4 linked regions of the Homo sapiens genome follow. The protein of the gene in region 2 purifies or fractionates together with the protein of the main gene of each other region. This does not show direct contact. Each region holds a gene or a part of one and is shown on either strand. Other genes may lie near its edges.

Region 1 (3,916 bases), on a different chromosome or scaffold from region 2:
TCACCTCAACAAGGCACAGACCCTCCAGTTCCTGTTGTAGCTGAGTAAGGTGGTCATATCCTGGCTGCTCAGTTCAAAGTCAAAGACCTAAAAAACAAACAAAAAAATCCAGTAAGCTCTGCAAATAAAAATAAAAGACAAAATACTGTGCAGGACCCAGATGTCTTCCATGGCTTTGAGCAGAGAGGAGCGATAAGATAAACTGAACTTAGGAAAAGCTGATATATTAGTATTCAGGAAATGTGCATGTTGGGCTAGATAATATATGGAACGATGGAAACAGTCCTTCCTTTCCAGAACCTCCCAGGGAAATGATACATTTTATTTCATTTCAAAAAACACTACTGAGCACTTCTATTGTGATAAGTTGCAGTGAGGAATATAATTATGGGTAAGATGTGTCTTTGCCTCTATTTTATGAAGCAAACAAAGGGCAGAGGTATTTCTACAACTGTAATACAAATAACTAATCACACACTGTATAAGACACTCAACAGCACAGGAAGGGCAGAGGTATTCCAAAGGGATTCCAGCCGGGAAACTGAACAACCACAGCCGAAGAGGAGATGGTATTTGACATGGCCTAAGAAGTATAAGATTTTGACAGAGAGGGCAAGAAAGGTATACTGGGAGAAGAGAACCACCTGCATGAAGGCAGCAGACGGTACAGAACTCAGCTGGCATGGAGGCTGGGAGGGAGGGAGGCAGGCAGGCACCACTGGGTGAGACCCACAAGAGGCTGACACACACTCCCAGAGCCGAAGGGCTCTTAGCTTCAGATGATCACAGAATGTGCAGAAAGAGAGTCTGCTACAGGCTCTGTGGTTATGATCACAGAAAAATGTGCAAAAGCTATACAGTAAGATGCAAAAATAAAATAATTAGGTTAGCATTTTGAGATTAGTCATTTATTTTTTCTTTCCTAATTCCTTAAAAAATGAAATACGAAACAAACGATGCATCTCTGGTGGGATATGCCTTTCCCTCAGTGGCCACTGTTTTGCCATTTTATCTTGTGTACTTAGAACATCTACCTGCACGTAAGAAGAAAAACGTCTCCTCTCCTAAACAATGAGCTCCACTTCCCTCTTCAGGGATCACTCTCATCCCTGTCTCATATGTGACAGGTGGCAGGCACTATGGCCACAGTCTTTGGGCAGTGGAATTGGGCAAAATCAGCTGCTCACCTAAGCTGGGGCCTGCCCAAGAGCCCCAGGCCCATGGCTGTGCTGCGCTCGGCACAGATCTTGGATAAAGACAGAGCATCCCTGGCAGAGCCACTTTGCTCAGTGAGAACAGAGGCTCTTGGGCCATCAGGACTCCCCTGAGCTGCTCTCCTTTGGGCGTGCCCCCCCCCTCCCCCACACCCCCGCCACCAATGCTGCAAGGGCAGGCAGGGAGGGAGGTGGCGCCAAGTAGCCTGAGCTGCTCCAGCTGCCACACTGAGCGCTTCGCCAGAGTCCTGACACAGGTCTAGGCTCTGCCCATCATCACACGAACTCCTTGCAGAGCTGGTGAATGGACTAAATGGCCCAGAGGGTCCTTTGCAGTCCCTGGACTTATCAGCACAGCAACATTTCTCGATCACTTACTAAGGTATTAAGCACCATGTGAAGTGCTCTGATGCATCACTTAATCTTCGTAACAACCCTCAAAATGGATATTATTTTATAGATAGGGAAGCTGAGGCATCGAGCAGTTAAGCGACTTGCCCAGGGTTATGCAGCTGGTAGCTGACAGAGCTCCAGTGCAGGGCAGGTCCAGGCAGTGAAGCTCAAGAGCGAGATTCTCCCCGGGTAACCTCTCGGTGTGGCTGAAGGGCCTGAGCAAAGGTGTAGGTGTATGCGTGCACAGCACGGGGCCCTGGAGGCCCAAGGCCTGCCCCTGCACACGGCTCCACTGGTGAGGTGTCAGTCTCAGTCTTGGCTTGCTCGCCACAGCTCCCTGGCCTCAGAAGAGAGGATGGTGGTGATCCCACAGATGACACTCCAGAGACAGGATGAGAGGCCTCCCCCATCCCCCACTCCATGGAGGAGGGCCAGGCCTGACCAGCCAAGATCTTACCTTAAAGTTCTCAGCAATGCGTTCTGGTGTCACAGACTTGGGGATCACCACCAAGTTCCTCTGCATGGGGAACCGGATCAGGACCTGTGAGCCCAAGGAGACAGTGAGTGTGTATACATGCCAGGCACTCGCACCCATCATCTCAGTCTCTCACACACACAACCTGCAGAAGGACGTGCTAGAACTCCACAGGTGATCAGAGAGGGGCTCCAAGATGTCAGGTCACAGCTAGCAACAGGTAGGCGACGCATTCAGGTCCAGATCTGACTCCAGAGTCCTGCGCTAGCCACTGTGCCACACGCTTCAGTGTCTCAGGCATATCATGAGACCACATGAGGCCCTCCACTGGCTAGAAATGCACACTACCACTCAGGAGAAAGAACATTCCCTGCACGGCTAAGAGCTCTTACATTTGTACAGATGAGGTTCCACATGAATGAACAAGCGCTGGCCCTCGTGGCAGTCACCCTTGCAGTAGTGGGGGCAGGCACTATTAATCTAAGAGCCCATGCCAGAGTCTTCTAAAACCCCGATCTGTGCCCTTTCCACTCTGTACTTGAGGACCCCTAACCATACTTCCTGTGAGGGTGTAACAGGCTCAGTCACTTCCTCCTCTTGGCTAACAGGACTGTCAGGAATGCAGGCAGTTGTGGACGGTCAGCAACACCTGAAGTGGCTGTACCTGGGCTGTAGTTTTATTGTGCTTGGCTGCGATCGCCTTGATCCTGGGATCCTCCAGGAGAGAAGGGTCCTCGGGCTTGGCCCTGAGGATAGAAAGACAGTCCAGGTCACACCATCATGGCCACCACTCACAGCAGCCAGAAACCCCAACCCTAATCCTCCCATCGACCTCAGAGGGCAGCCACCAGTCTCCTCCTCAGAGCTGGGTTAAGAACCCCCAACCCTTTGGAAAAAGAGTAGGTGTCTTGCTACTAGAAACTCCAACCCTTCCAGGAAAACCAGCAAGAGGCTCAGGGGAAGTTTTGCAGATCACCCCCAGAAACATCTTCCTTGAGGCTGAATTGTTCTTTTTAGTCTTTTCTAATCTTCACCAAGTGACACAGGAGCATGAGCCTGTGGGAAGCTCACCAGGGCCTGTCAGGAGAGCCGAGGGGGCTGTAGGCGGTCACCACGATGCCTTTGGACTGGCAGTACTGGATTAACTTCTCCTGAGTGAGATATGGGTGGCACTCAATCTGCAAATGCAAAAACAAGAGCTGATGGGAGCACTGTGGCTACACGCTGATGGGACACAGATGAAGCTTCCTATGCTAAAGTCCCTCCCTACCCCATACAGAAAACTATGTATAACAAACACCCTATTTCCCAGATAAGCTGTAACTTCCTACAGTTCCCAGGTAGTATCCTTGGTGTTATTATTATCTTATTATAGATGTTCTCATGGGCCCTAGAGGCTTTTCTTGGCTTTAGCCACTTATCAACTATCACAGTTCTGAGGATCTCATGGCTGCCTCTTTGTCAGACCCCAAATCGTCACAAGCCAGGCTCAAACTCTTTCTTTCCTGTAAGTTTCCTCTCCCAGATGTGCTGTGTCATGCTGAATCATAACTCAGGACTCTGCCAACACCCAGGAGCTGCCTCCTGGCCACTTGCTGGGTGAGGTGGACGAGAAATCCCTACCAGCATCAGACAGTAAAACAGCAACGTTGCAATGCCAGTGTCGTTGGGGGATGTTTACCTGGTTAACTGCAGGCTTATACTTCAAGCCAGGTTTGTTTAAGATCATCTCCACCTGGAGATGGTTGAAGTTGGAGATGCCAATAGCTTTCACCAGCCCTTCATCCACCAGCTCTTCCATGGCCTACAGAGAAAAGTGTCTGTGTGGTGCAGA
Region 2 (2,982 bases):
TTAACATCTCTGAAGCTTCAGAGTCGCAAACTGTAAAGTGGGTATATAATAATGGCCCCTAGGCTGGGCGCGGTGGCTCACGCCTGTAATCACTTTGGGAGGCCGAGGCAGGTGGATCACCTGAGGTCAGGAGTTCGAGACCAGCTTGACCAACATGGAGAAACCCCATCTCTACTAAAAATACAAAAATTAGCTGGGTGTGGTGGTGCATGCCTATAATCCTAGCTACTCAGGAGGCTGAGACAGGAGAATTGCTTGAACCCGGGAGGCGGAGGTTGCGGTGAGCCGAGATTGCGCCATTGCACTCCAGCCTGGGCAACGAGCGAAACTCCATCTCAAAAATAAATAAATAAATAAATAAAATAATGGCCCCTATCTCATAGAATTCTGAGGATTGAATAAGTTAGTGGATATAAAGCTCTTGTCACAGTACAGAGCACAAGATAAATGCTATGTACATTAGCAATATTATTATCCTTGTTAATATTATGATTATTATTTATCATTATCACTATCATCATCGTGTGATCTGGGAAGCCCAGGGATCCCCCAAGTATGCCAGGAAGGGAAACCCTGGCCTGCTCTCTCTCTGCCTCCACCTGCAGGAAGCTCTCCCCCTCTTCCCCCACCACCATCTCCTCTTTTCAAACCTGAATTCGGAGCTGCAGGCTGCGGTTGGCCTGCTCCAGGGATCGCTGCCGGCTCTCCAGGTCTTTGGAGCGCTGCTGCTCCTTCTGCAGCTTGCGGATATAATCCACAGAGGCCTTCAGGATGGTGCCCTTGTTCCAGCGCATCTCCCTGTGGGGCCCAAGTGGGAGGCAAGCAGGAAATGCCACATGAGGAGTTTCTCAGGAGCTGAGGCGGGGATTGCACCAGGTGGGAGCCTCCCACCACATGCTTAGAACTTGAGGCTGGGGTCTTTCAAAGGTATGGAGTATCCAGAGGAAAACTTCCCGCCTGGAATCTTACAATGGTGCCCCATCACACTCCAAACCCTGGAAGCCGTCTCTGACCTGACCCCTTAGGATTCCTCTCTTCCCTATGTCCCTCCGATTGATCTCACTACAGCCACATTGGTCTCTCAGTGCTCCTAGAATATGGAAAACCACTCCCATCTCAGGGCATCAATCCCAGCCGTGCCCTCTGCCTTGAATACTCTTACCCCCAGACACCCATGCGGCTCCCCGCCTTGCCTCCTTAGGCTCTTTATTCAAACGTTTCCTTGTCAGTTGGGGCCTGCCCTGTCCTCACCTTCCTTATCCCAAACTAACCCTCCCCAACATTCTCCCATTTTCCTTCCAGTCTTTATTCTTCTCATAACACTCATCATAATGGATCTCATGGATGTTTACTTATTTACTATTTGTCTGCCCCCACTAAAACATCAGTTTCATGAGGTCTGTTTTGTTCCCTCTGGTATCTTTAGGGCCTAATATGGTACCTGGCACAAACCAGAGGTTCAAAAAATAAATCTTTCTCTTTTCCTTTTTTTTTGCGGGGCGGTGGGGGATGGAGTCTCGCTCTGTCACCCAGGCTGGAGAGCAGTGGCACAATCTTGGCTCACTACAACCTCCACTTCTCAGGTTCAAGCGATTCTCCTGCCTCAGCCTTCTGAGTAGCTGAGATGACAGGCCTACGCCACCACGCCCAGCTAATTTTTTTTGTATTTTTTGTAGAGATGGGGTTTCACCATGTTGGCCAGGCTGGTCTCAAACTCCTGACCTCAGGTGATCCACCCGTCTCGGCCTCCCCAAGTGCTGGGATTACAGGTGCCCACCACCACGCCCCGCTAATTTTTATATTTTTAATAGAAATGGGGTTTCACCATGTTGGCCAGAATGGTCTCAATCTCCTGACCTTGTGATCCACCCGCCTCGGCCTCCCAAAGTGCTGGGATTACAGGCGTGAGCCACTGCACCCGGCCATCTTTTTTTTTTTTTGTTTTTGAGACAAAGTCTTGCTCTGTCACCCAGGCTGGAGTGCAGTGGCACCATATTGGCTCACTGCAACCTCCACCTCCCGGGTTCAAGTGATTCTCCTGCCTCAGCATCCCGAGTAGCGGGGATTACAGGTGCGTGCCACCACGCCCAGCTAAATTTTTTTTATTTTTAGTGGAGACAGGGTTTCACCATGTTGGCCTTCACCTCCTGACCTCGTGATCCGCCTGCCTTGGCCTCCCAAAGTGCCAGGATTACAAGTGTGAGCCACTGCACCTGGCTAATTTTTGTATTTTTTAGTAGAGACGGGGTTTCATCATGTTGGCCAGGCTAGTCTGAAACTCCTGACCTTAGGTGATCGACCCCGCCTTGGCCTCCCAAAGTGCTGGGATTACAGGCATGAGCCACCACACCCGGCCAATAAATAAATCTTGAATAAATAAAGGAAGTACCATTGCACCACTGCACTCCAGCCTGGGTGACAGCGTGAGACTCCATCTCAAAAAAAAGAAAAAAAAAAAGGAAGTACTAAGTGAACAGAAAAGTAGGTGCATATATCCTACGGGGACCAGATGGGGCACACAGACCATAACATTATGTGCCTAAAATTTTAGGTGCTGACATAGTGAGGGTCTGCAACCCTGCTCAGGCTGAGAAAGAACCAGACAGAGGAGAAATGCCTGGGCCGAGACTGCCTGGTGAGCCCACCAAGGCACAATTTTAGTAGCATGGGACGCCTGCCCCACCTCCCGCTGGCCTGAGGGTCCCAGCCCAGACTCACGGGTCACTGGACTTAGGGATGAGAGTGCCCAGTTCCTTGATCCTGTCGTTAATGTTGAATCGCCTGCGACGCTCAACTTTGGAGAGGGGAGGAGAGGAAGAAAGAGTGGGAGAAAGAGTTGTCAATTAGCCAAAAATGGAAGAGACAGAAAGTAGGGAGTTGGGAGGCTGTTGCAGGGAAGGAGTTCCCCATGGGGGGCCAGGACTCGGGGTGAGGCAGGCCTGCACAGCACCCGGGCAATGCACACGCTCTCTGGCTTACTTA
Region 3 (3,916 bases), on a different chromosome or scaffold from region 2:
CTGGCCAACATGGCGAAACCCCATCTTTACTAAAAGTACAAAAAATTAGTCAGGCATGGTGGCGCACGCCTGTTATCCAGTTACTGGGAGAAGGAGGCAGAAGAATTGCTTGAACCCAGGAGGTGGAGGTTGCAATAAGCCGAGACTGCACTCCAGCCTGGGCAACAGAGACTCAAAAAAACTATAAAAATAGGCTGGGCACAGTGGCTCAGTGGTTCAAGCCCATAATCCCAACAGTTTGGGAGGCTGAGGTGCGAAGATTGCTTGAAGCCAGGAGTCTAAGACCAGCCTAGGCAAGAAGACTCTGCCTCTACAAAAAAAAGTAGATTAAGCTGGGCATAGTAGCTTCAGATAGTCCTAGCAACTTGGGAGGCTGAGGTGGGAGAATAGCTTGGGCCCAGGAATGAGCTGCAGTGAGCCAAGATCATGCCAGTGTACTCCAGCCTGGGCAACACAGCAAGTCCCTGTCTCTTAAACAAAAAAACTATAAAATGTAAGGAAATAATGACTTTTTGAGTACAGATGGTGGTGCCAGGTTGAATAACAGTTCATCTGCATTATCATTCTTACAAAAAGGAAAAATATTTCCTAGGTATAAAAATACAACTGATGCTCTAGGGAGGCCCTGGCCGGGGAAACGAGTTGCATTTGTCGGCTCAGCTGGCAACAGTGGCGGGAGCAGAGCTGGCGGGGCCTGTGCAACTGCCTGGGTTTGTGAAATGGCTGCTGACGTTTCCGATTCCAATAGGGCTGACTGCAAAGGAGACCCAAGGAACAGAGCCAAGTTAGATGCTGATTACCTACTTTGAGTCCTTTATTGTGGAGTCTGTTCATTACCAATAGAGTACTGTGAATATATGCCTGATGTTGCTAAATGTAGACAATGATTAGAGAAGAATTTTCCAAATGAATATGCAAAACTTACTGTGGAAAATTCACCCAAACAAGAAGCTGGAATCTGTCAAGGTCAAGGAACAGCAGGGGAAGAAGAGGAGAAGAAAAAACAGAAGAGAGGTGGAAGGGGTCAAATAAAACAAAAAAACAAAGACGGTACCACAAAAGGTTACTATAGCCAAAATTCCCAGAGCAAAGAAATATGTGACAAGGGTTGTGGCCTTGTAACTTTTGAAATTGATCTTAAATCACACAAAGATTTTTTGCTCAAAAATTCTCCTGTGGTGCCTCAGTAACAGAGGAGGATGAAATTATCATTCAAGGAGACTTTACAGATGACATAATTGAGGTCATTCAGGAAAAACAGACAGAAGTAGATGATGACAGCATCGAAGATCTTGGAGAAGAAGTGAATTTGAAAATTTGTCTGTAGTTAATGGCCTGAACTGACAGTAGATATGGCCAAAGGGAGAGAGGCCTACATATATATATATATATATATATATATATATGTATTCTACAGTAAAACTGTAGACTGCCTTCGTTCTTGGCATTTTCCCTGTTCTGTACAAGGCTGCTTATTTTTTTATTGCCAAAGTCAAATAAACAGGAGAGACTGTCATGCTCATACATGAACAGAATTTAGTCAAATAAAAAATTTTGGTTATTTGGTACTTTTTTTTTTTTTTTTTGAGACGGAGTCTCACACTGTCGCCTGGGCTGGAGCGCAGTGGTGCGATCTCGGCTCACTGCAACCTCGACTTCCCGAGTTCAAGTGATTCTCCTGCCTGAGCCTCCCGAGTAGGTGGGATTAGAGGCACCCGCCTCCACACCCAGCTAATATTTTGTATTTTTAGTAGAGATGGGATTTCACCATGTTGGCCAGGCTGGTCTCGAACTCCTGACCTAGTGATTGGCCCACCTAGGCCTCCCAAAGTGCTGGGATTACAGGCATGAGCCACTGCGCCTGGCCTTTCTCTTTCTCTCTTTTTATTTTTTGAAAAACCCGGTAGACTTTGCGGTGACCATTTTTGTTGATTATTTTACTGATCTAAAGCTGAGTGATTTTTTAAAAGAATTTGAATTTGGCTTCCTCACCAATAATATGTCTCCTTGCTTCTCTGATGTGATAGTTTTGAGATGGGTGAGAATCTAATATATCTGTGGTTGAATTTGCTTTGCTGTTATCAAGTCCACCCTATGGGCACAATAACATACTGTTGGTAGGAGTTGTTGGAGCTATTCTGGAGATTATTTGGTAAAGTATACTAAAAGCCTTAAAACCACGTATGTGCACTGTTTGAACCAGTAAGCCACTTCTTTGAAATTAGAAGACATTAGAAGAAACAATAAGCCTTGCAATAAAACTTATGGATGAAAGTATTCATCACAATATGATTTATAATAAAAAATTGCAAATGTTATAAGTGAACAATTGGAAAATGGTTAAGGAAGTGATGGTGCACTGTGTGGTATGTTTATGTTTAAAGATGTGGTATGCATATGTTTAAAGAATCATATTTTCTAAGATTATTTGGAAACATGTTTGGTAATGTCAAGTGGGGGCACCCCAGATACATTTTAGACATTTAATCATCATCGTTCTGAGAGGAAGGCCATTCAGAGATGCTAGAGGTTCTTATTCTGGATATAAATTACATGAGTAAAATTCTACTAACCAATTAAAAATAATGTACAACCATGTTCAATATACAGTCCTGGAAATAGCAATTATGTCTTTTCACAAGAGAAAATGACAGTTTTAATGCTCCATCAGATGAATTCGAACTTTAAGTCAGGTGCTGCAAATTGGAAATAAGACTTGTGGTGTTTTAAACTGCTGTGGACACTTAAGAAACTTAGAACCCATGAAACCGCTGCTTATTGCCATGCAAATTACAATCTTGAATGACTGTTTTTTAAAAATAAAGTAATAGAAAAACGTGTAATAAAGACGTAAAATTAAAAAATGAAAAAATACAACTGGTTATATAATATTGTACTCCATCATTAAATGCTAACATTTCTGACAAGTCCTAAGATTTTATCATCTTAAAAACATACCAAAATAAAGTTGGTACTAACCGAAATCTCATCTTCTTCATCTGGTTTCCATTCACATTCTTCTTCCGTAGGTTCATAAATTGCATTAATAATTTCAAATCGCTAAAATGATTTAAAAAAAAAAGGCTGTATAAAAACACTGGCATCCAAGCTAAAACCAGTGGTTTCTCACTAAGAAGTCTTACAAATTTAACAAATGCATACCACAACTTTAACTGCTATTATTGATAGTTCCTCCAAGTGCTGCCTCTAATAACAATTTCAATGAGAGTTCTAAAGATTAACCTCTTCCAAGTCTGCTTATGTTTCTAGAATTCGTCTTCTAGAATGTTAAATTAAACAAAGTAGGAGAAAGCATTACCTTATCAAATAGAGGCTGATAGAGAACAGCATACTTCCTTTCAAGATCGTGAACTTCCTCATAGAATTTGGCTTCTATCTGTGCACATTTAACTTGCAGGTTTTTGAGAGCATTCACTCGTCTTTTAACTACCCTAGGCAGGCTGAAAGGTTAGAAATCAGTTATATAGCATCAGAGTAAAATGGAAGTCACACTTCTTTTGTCATACTGAAACTGAAGCATTGGAGTTAGTGAATGACAGGTTTTTTATCTGAAGCAAAAGGTAGATTCAAAGTAAATAAAAATCAAATAGATATAAATACATTGATCCACTGGCTATATTTCAAAAGTAGAAATGTAACTGGGTAAATTGATAAACAAAATGTAAATCATATTGTCAACCCTAAATCTTTACCCAAGTTAAGTGTTGGACTTGTCATTGCTGAAGTCATGGACAGACCATCTTAATTCTGAGAACAATGATTACTTGGATTTTTCTTTTACATATATCTCACCCATACAAGTTATTAGGAAAAAGGAGGGGAGCATAGACATATCAGGAAAAAGGACAAGATTCCACACACCATTATTTTTTTAGTCTCCATATTTAATTAGGAA
Region 4 (3,916 bases), on a different chromosome or scaffold from region 2:
ACAGAATGGGTGAGTTTCTAAAATGAATGAAACCTTTCAAACTATCTTATCCTAAATACAGTTTAAAAAAATTGTTTTAAATAGTTTAAAATTTTCAAAAAACTCCAATGAATCTACCTCCACTCTGTAAAATTTCCAGCTTATTATATCTCATATTTTGGTTACCATATCCTGAATGGGGGAAAAAATAACACTTCAAACAGATAAACCTAGTCTAAAGATGGTACAAGTAAGTACAAAGAAGGCCTACATAATGGTGGGAAGCTTCTCTATGGGCCAAAACCTTGAACTCATCCATTATCAATTAAAACCCAACATCGTATGTTGAATCTATCCAAAGCAGTCTGAGATACTAATTTTTGTACCCCAAGTATAAGAAAGAAACATGTATTATTAGCGAGGCAATTCCTGAAGAGGAGAGCTAAGAGCTATTTCCAAAGAAATAAATGAAAAAGGCAACAGAAGAGACATAAAACAGAAAAAGAAAATATTCCTTTAATAAAACCACAAAGTTAAATGCTAAAATAAGTTATCTGATAACATAGATAAGTAATCATTTCCTCAATGAGATTTCAACTTTAACTGGAACTGAAAAGAAAATAGGGGGAAAAATTTCTTTTCTATAAACTATCAATTCAATGTTATCACCAAATATGACCTTACATGACATTTTCAAATGGTTAGAAAACAAACTTGGCAAAATTAGGATTCCACAGGGCAACTAAAAAAAAAATAAAGCATTTTCAGTTGAACAACCAGTAACTCAGATTCACTTAAACTGGTAAAATTAAACAAAATGATGCCTTTTCTTCACGTTATCAAATCTATTTGAAAAATCCCTTTGTAATACTCTTAAACTTTGAGAATAGGTGGAAGAAATTTCAACAATGATTATAATTAAGCCTTAAGGACATAAAAGGAGCAAAGCCACAGAGAACCGTCCCGTAATAAAGATAAAAGATCTCCTTTAGTGCCAGTAGTAGCTGCTCCTTTAAACAATAAATGTCATATTTGTAAAAAATAAAACTGAAGCTTTTCATTTTTTAAAATTTCATCTTCAGGTTGATTCTCCCAGTCCTTTCTCATTCCAAGCAAAGGATGGTTATGAAAGGCCATCCTTCATGCATTACTGTGTAGAACCACTCGAAGATTAAGGGAGATCTGAAAATTTAAGATTTTGAAAATAAATGGATACATGATGGTACCACAGGGGTATCAGTCCCATGACTGGCATTTGGGCAACCAATAAGAATAATAGTGATTTTTTCTTTTTAACCAGTACACCTATTTTCTCCTCTTAACAAATTAATTGCTCTAAGAGTTCAATGTTTGTTCTCCTTCCTGTTACCCGTCGTACTTCCTTCCTTTTCCACTGCTTATGTCATGATGGCTATTAGATACTAAGGGCTAACGTTATATTCAACCTCTTGATATTAAAAAATTTCATTCCTCTACCTCTGTTTTCACCTATTTGTCCCTCCCATTTTCAAAAGATACCTAATTACTATCTTGTATGTTGAAAAGAATTTGTTTCTCCTATTTTAAGATTGCAAAATTTTTATGACTTTACAGCTGCTCTGTCCAATAGAGCAGCTGCTAGTTAAATATGCACACTTTAAATGAATCAAAAGTAAATAGAATTAAAAATTCAGTTCCTCAGTTACAACTAGCAACATTTCAAGTGCTCAACAGTCATTGATGCCTTGTGGCTAATATTAGATAGCACTGACACAGAACACTGTCACTGCAGAAAGTTCTGAGGGACACTACTGCTCTACAGCATCTAATCTATGACTGTAAAAAACTGGAGACAGTTCTTCTAGTTTATACCTACTCTATCCTGTCTTCTCTGAAGGAAAACATGCTCAATTCATAAATGTGAATAAAAATACAGGGAAAGATTAAGACAGGTAGTAGGTAAAAATTCCCAGAATCAGTCTCTCTGTATCAAAGAAAAGAAAAGCAGGTAGTAAAAAAACTCAAGAGATCATTACTAAGAATAAAGGTCATTTAAGTAGCAAGACTTACACAATTGTTTTGGTTAAGTATCATTTTTTTTAAATCTTACCTCTTTTTGTGGCAACATACGACAACAAAATCTTTTCCAAAATATCTTGAGGCAAAGAATTACAAATGCAAAGACCACTAAGTAAAATAATATTCTTTGAGTGTCCCTCTTTATTACTTTACCTCTTTAGAAAATGAAACATGAGGCCAAGGATTAGATCCAACAGCACCCACCCTCAGATCTAACCATTTCATGCTTTCTAGTAATCACAAATATATAGCACCACATACCTCACTAAATCTGGAGACCGAATTATTCCTTCCACAATGTTATCACGTATTTGCTGGCGATCGTTTTCGTGAATGTTGAATGGAAATATTGCTTCTCCTGGTGGAGGTTCTCGATCTGGCCAGTATTGTGTCACCATGTTCTTCAGGTAAATGGCAGCTGAGTTTGAGAAAAAATGCTAATGTAGCAGTACCAAAAAGGATGGCTTTAATTCAGCCTTACAGAGCATGAAAGTCCAAACCCTTCAATGTTAAACATGAAACCCAGCAAAAATGGATACTCTTACAGGTATAAACAGCCAAATCAGGAAGGGAAAGTGGATAAGAATTTAAAGGTTTCACTTCAGCTAGTCTAAGCAGAAAACATTTCATTAAGTCAAGACCCAGAGCTTACAGGACAGGAAAATTATCTAGAAATAATGCATAGTAAACATACTTTGAGATCATAAAATCATACTTTTCGCAATGCCTAATTCTGAGGTGACAACAGGTAAAGTTCTACTTTCCTTCATGAAGATGGCTTTTTTTGTTTTTTGTTTTCCCACTGGCTACTGTCAAACACTAGCATTTTGGGGTATCTCTTCTTTTTATAGTATTGGTAATTTTCATCCAACCTTTTTGAAATATGTACTACTTGTAAATATAATAGGGAAATGAACATCAGCCATCAAAAATTTTTGGAAAAAAGCTCAGAAAATTTTTATATGTTCACATCTATCAAAATACATAATCTGATTTTGTTCTGTTCTTTTTAATCGTCTTCAACCTTTAACAAAAGGCTTCTGAAAGAAACAGGCTGACATATTGCTACAGCATTTTAAGAAAGAATGTGAAGCTTTTCTTTTCTTTTTTTTTTTTTTGAGACGGAATCTTTCTCTGTCATCCAGGCTAGAGTGCAGTGGCAAGATCTTGGCTCACTGCAACCTCTGTCTCCCGGGTTCAAACGATTATCCTGCCTCAGCCTCCCAAATACCTGGGATTACAGGCATGTGCCACCACACCCAGCTAATTTTTGTATTTTTAGTTAGACAAGATTTCACCATGTTGGCCAGGTTGGTCTCGAACACCTGACCTCAGGTGATCTGCCTGCCTCGGCCTCCCAAAGTGCTAGGATTACAGGTGTGAGCCACTGCACCTGGCCAGAATGTAAAGCTTTCTAACCATCCCAGTTGAACAGTGAATGTAAGTAAATACTTATAATGTTGTGTGTGTGTGTGTGTGTGTGTGTGTGTAAAGAATACAGATACGTGATTTGCAAAGCAGCATAACTTTCTTCCCTTAAGCTTCTCTTCTTTCCCCACCCAACTCTTTCTTCACCCAACTTTTAACATATAACTAAATTCATGACCCGGAGCAGTGACTCACACCTGTAATCCCAGCACTTTGGGAGGCCGAGGCGGGCGGATCACCTGAGGTCAGGAGTTCGAGACCACCCTGGCCAACATGGTGAAACCCCGTCTCTACTAAAAATACCAAAATTAGCCAAGCATGGTGGCAGGTACCTGTAATTCCAGCAAATTCCTTGAACCCAGGAGGCGGAGGTTGCAGTGAGCTGAGATCATGCCACAGCACTGCAGCCAGGGCAACAGAGCAAGACTCTGTCAAAAAAAAAAAAAAAAAA

Evidence for each region. The genes of interacting proteins can lie anywhere in the genome.
Region 1: the proteins of TFE3 (region 2) and AKR1B1 purify together in Homo sapiens (affinity purification with mass spectrometry; one large-scale study listed by BioGRID and IntAct). This does not show direct contact.
Region 3: the proteins of TFE3 (region 2) and NAP1L1 purify together in Homo sapiens (co-immunoprecipitation; one large-scale study listed by IntAct). This does not show direct contact.
Region 4: the proteins of TFE3 (region 2) and IPO8 purify together in Homo sapiens (co-immunoprecipitation; one study listed by IntAct). This does not show direct contact.

What each region holds. Positions count from the first base shown.
Region 1 is NC_000007.14:134,445,234-134,449,149, forward strand, and holds part of AKR1B1 (aldo-keto reductase family 1 member B1), read right to left. Parts: intron 3,887-3,916; coding exon 3,764-3,886; intron 3,261-3,763; coding exon 3,154-3,260; intron 2,829-3,153; coding exon 2,747-2,828; exon of another isoform or gene 2,149-2,746; coding exon 2,065-2,148; intron 88-2,064; coding exon 5-87; intron 1-4. UniProt on the Homo sapiens protein: Catalyzes the NADPH-dependent reduction of a wide variety of carbonyl-containing compounds to their corresponding alcohols.
Region 2 is NC_000023.11:49,030,747-49,033,728, forward strand, and holds part of TFE3 (transcription factor E3), read right to left. Parts: coding exon 2,980-2,982; intron 2,795-2,979; coding exon 2,719-2,794; intron 2,436-2,718; coding exon of another isoform or gene 2,390-2,435; intron 799-2,389; coding exon 651-798; intron 1-650. UniProt on the Homo sapiens protein: Transcription factor that acts as a master regulator of lysosomal biogenesis and immune response.
Region 3 is NC_000012.12:76,056,819-76,060,734, forward strand, and holds part of NAP1L1 (nucleosome assembly protein 1-like 1), read right to left. Parts: intron 3,462-3,916; coding exon 3,320-3,461; intron 3,061-3,319; coding exon 2,980-3,060; intron 1-2,979. UniProt on the Homo sapiens protein: Histone chaperone that plays a role in the nuclear import of H2A-H2B and nucleosome assembly.
Region 4 is NC_000012.12:30,682,003-30,685,918, forward strand, and holds part of IPO8 (importin-8), read right to left. Parts: intron 3,889-3,916; exon of another isoform or gene 3,798-3,888; intron 2,456-3,797; coding exon 2,299-2,455; intron 1-2,298. UniProt on the Homo sapiens protein: Involved in nuclear protein import, either by acting as autonomous nuclear transport receptor or as an adapter-like protein in association with the importin-beta subunit KPNB1.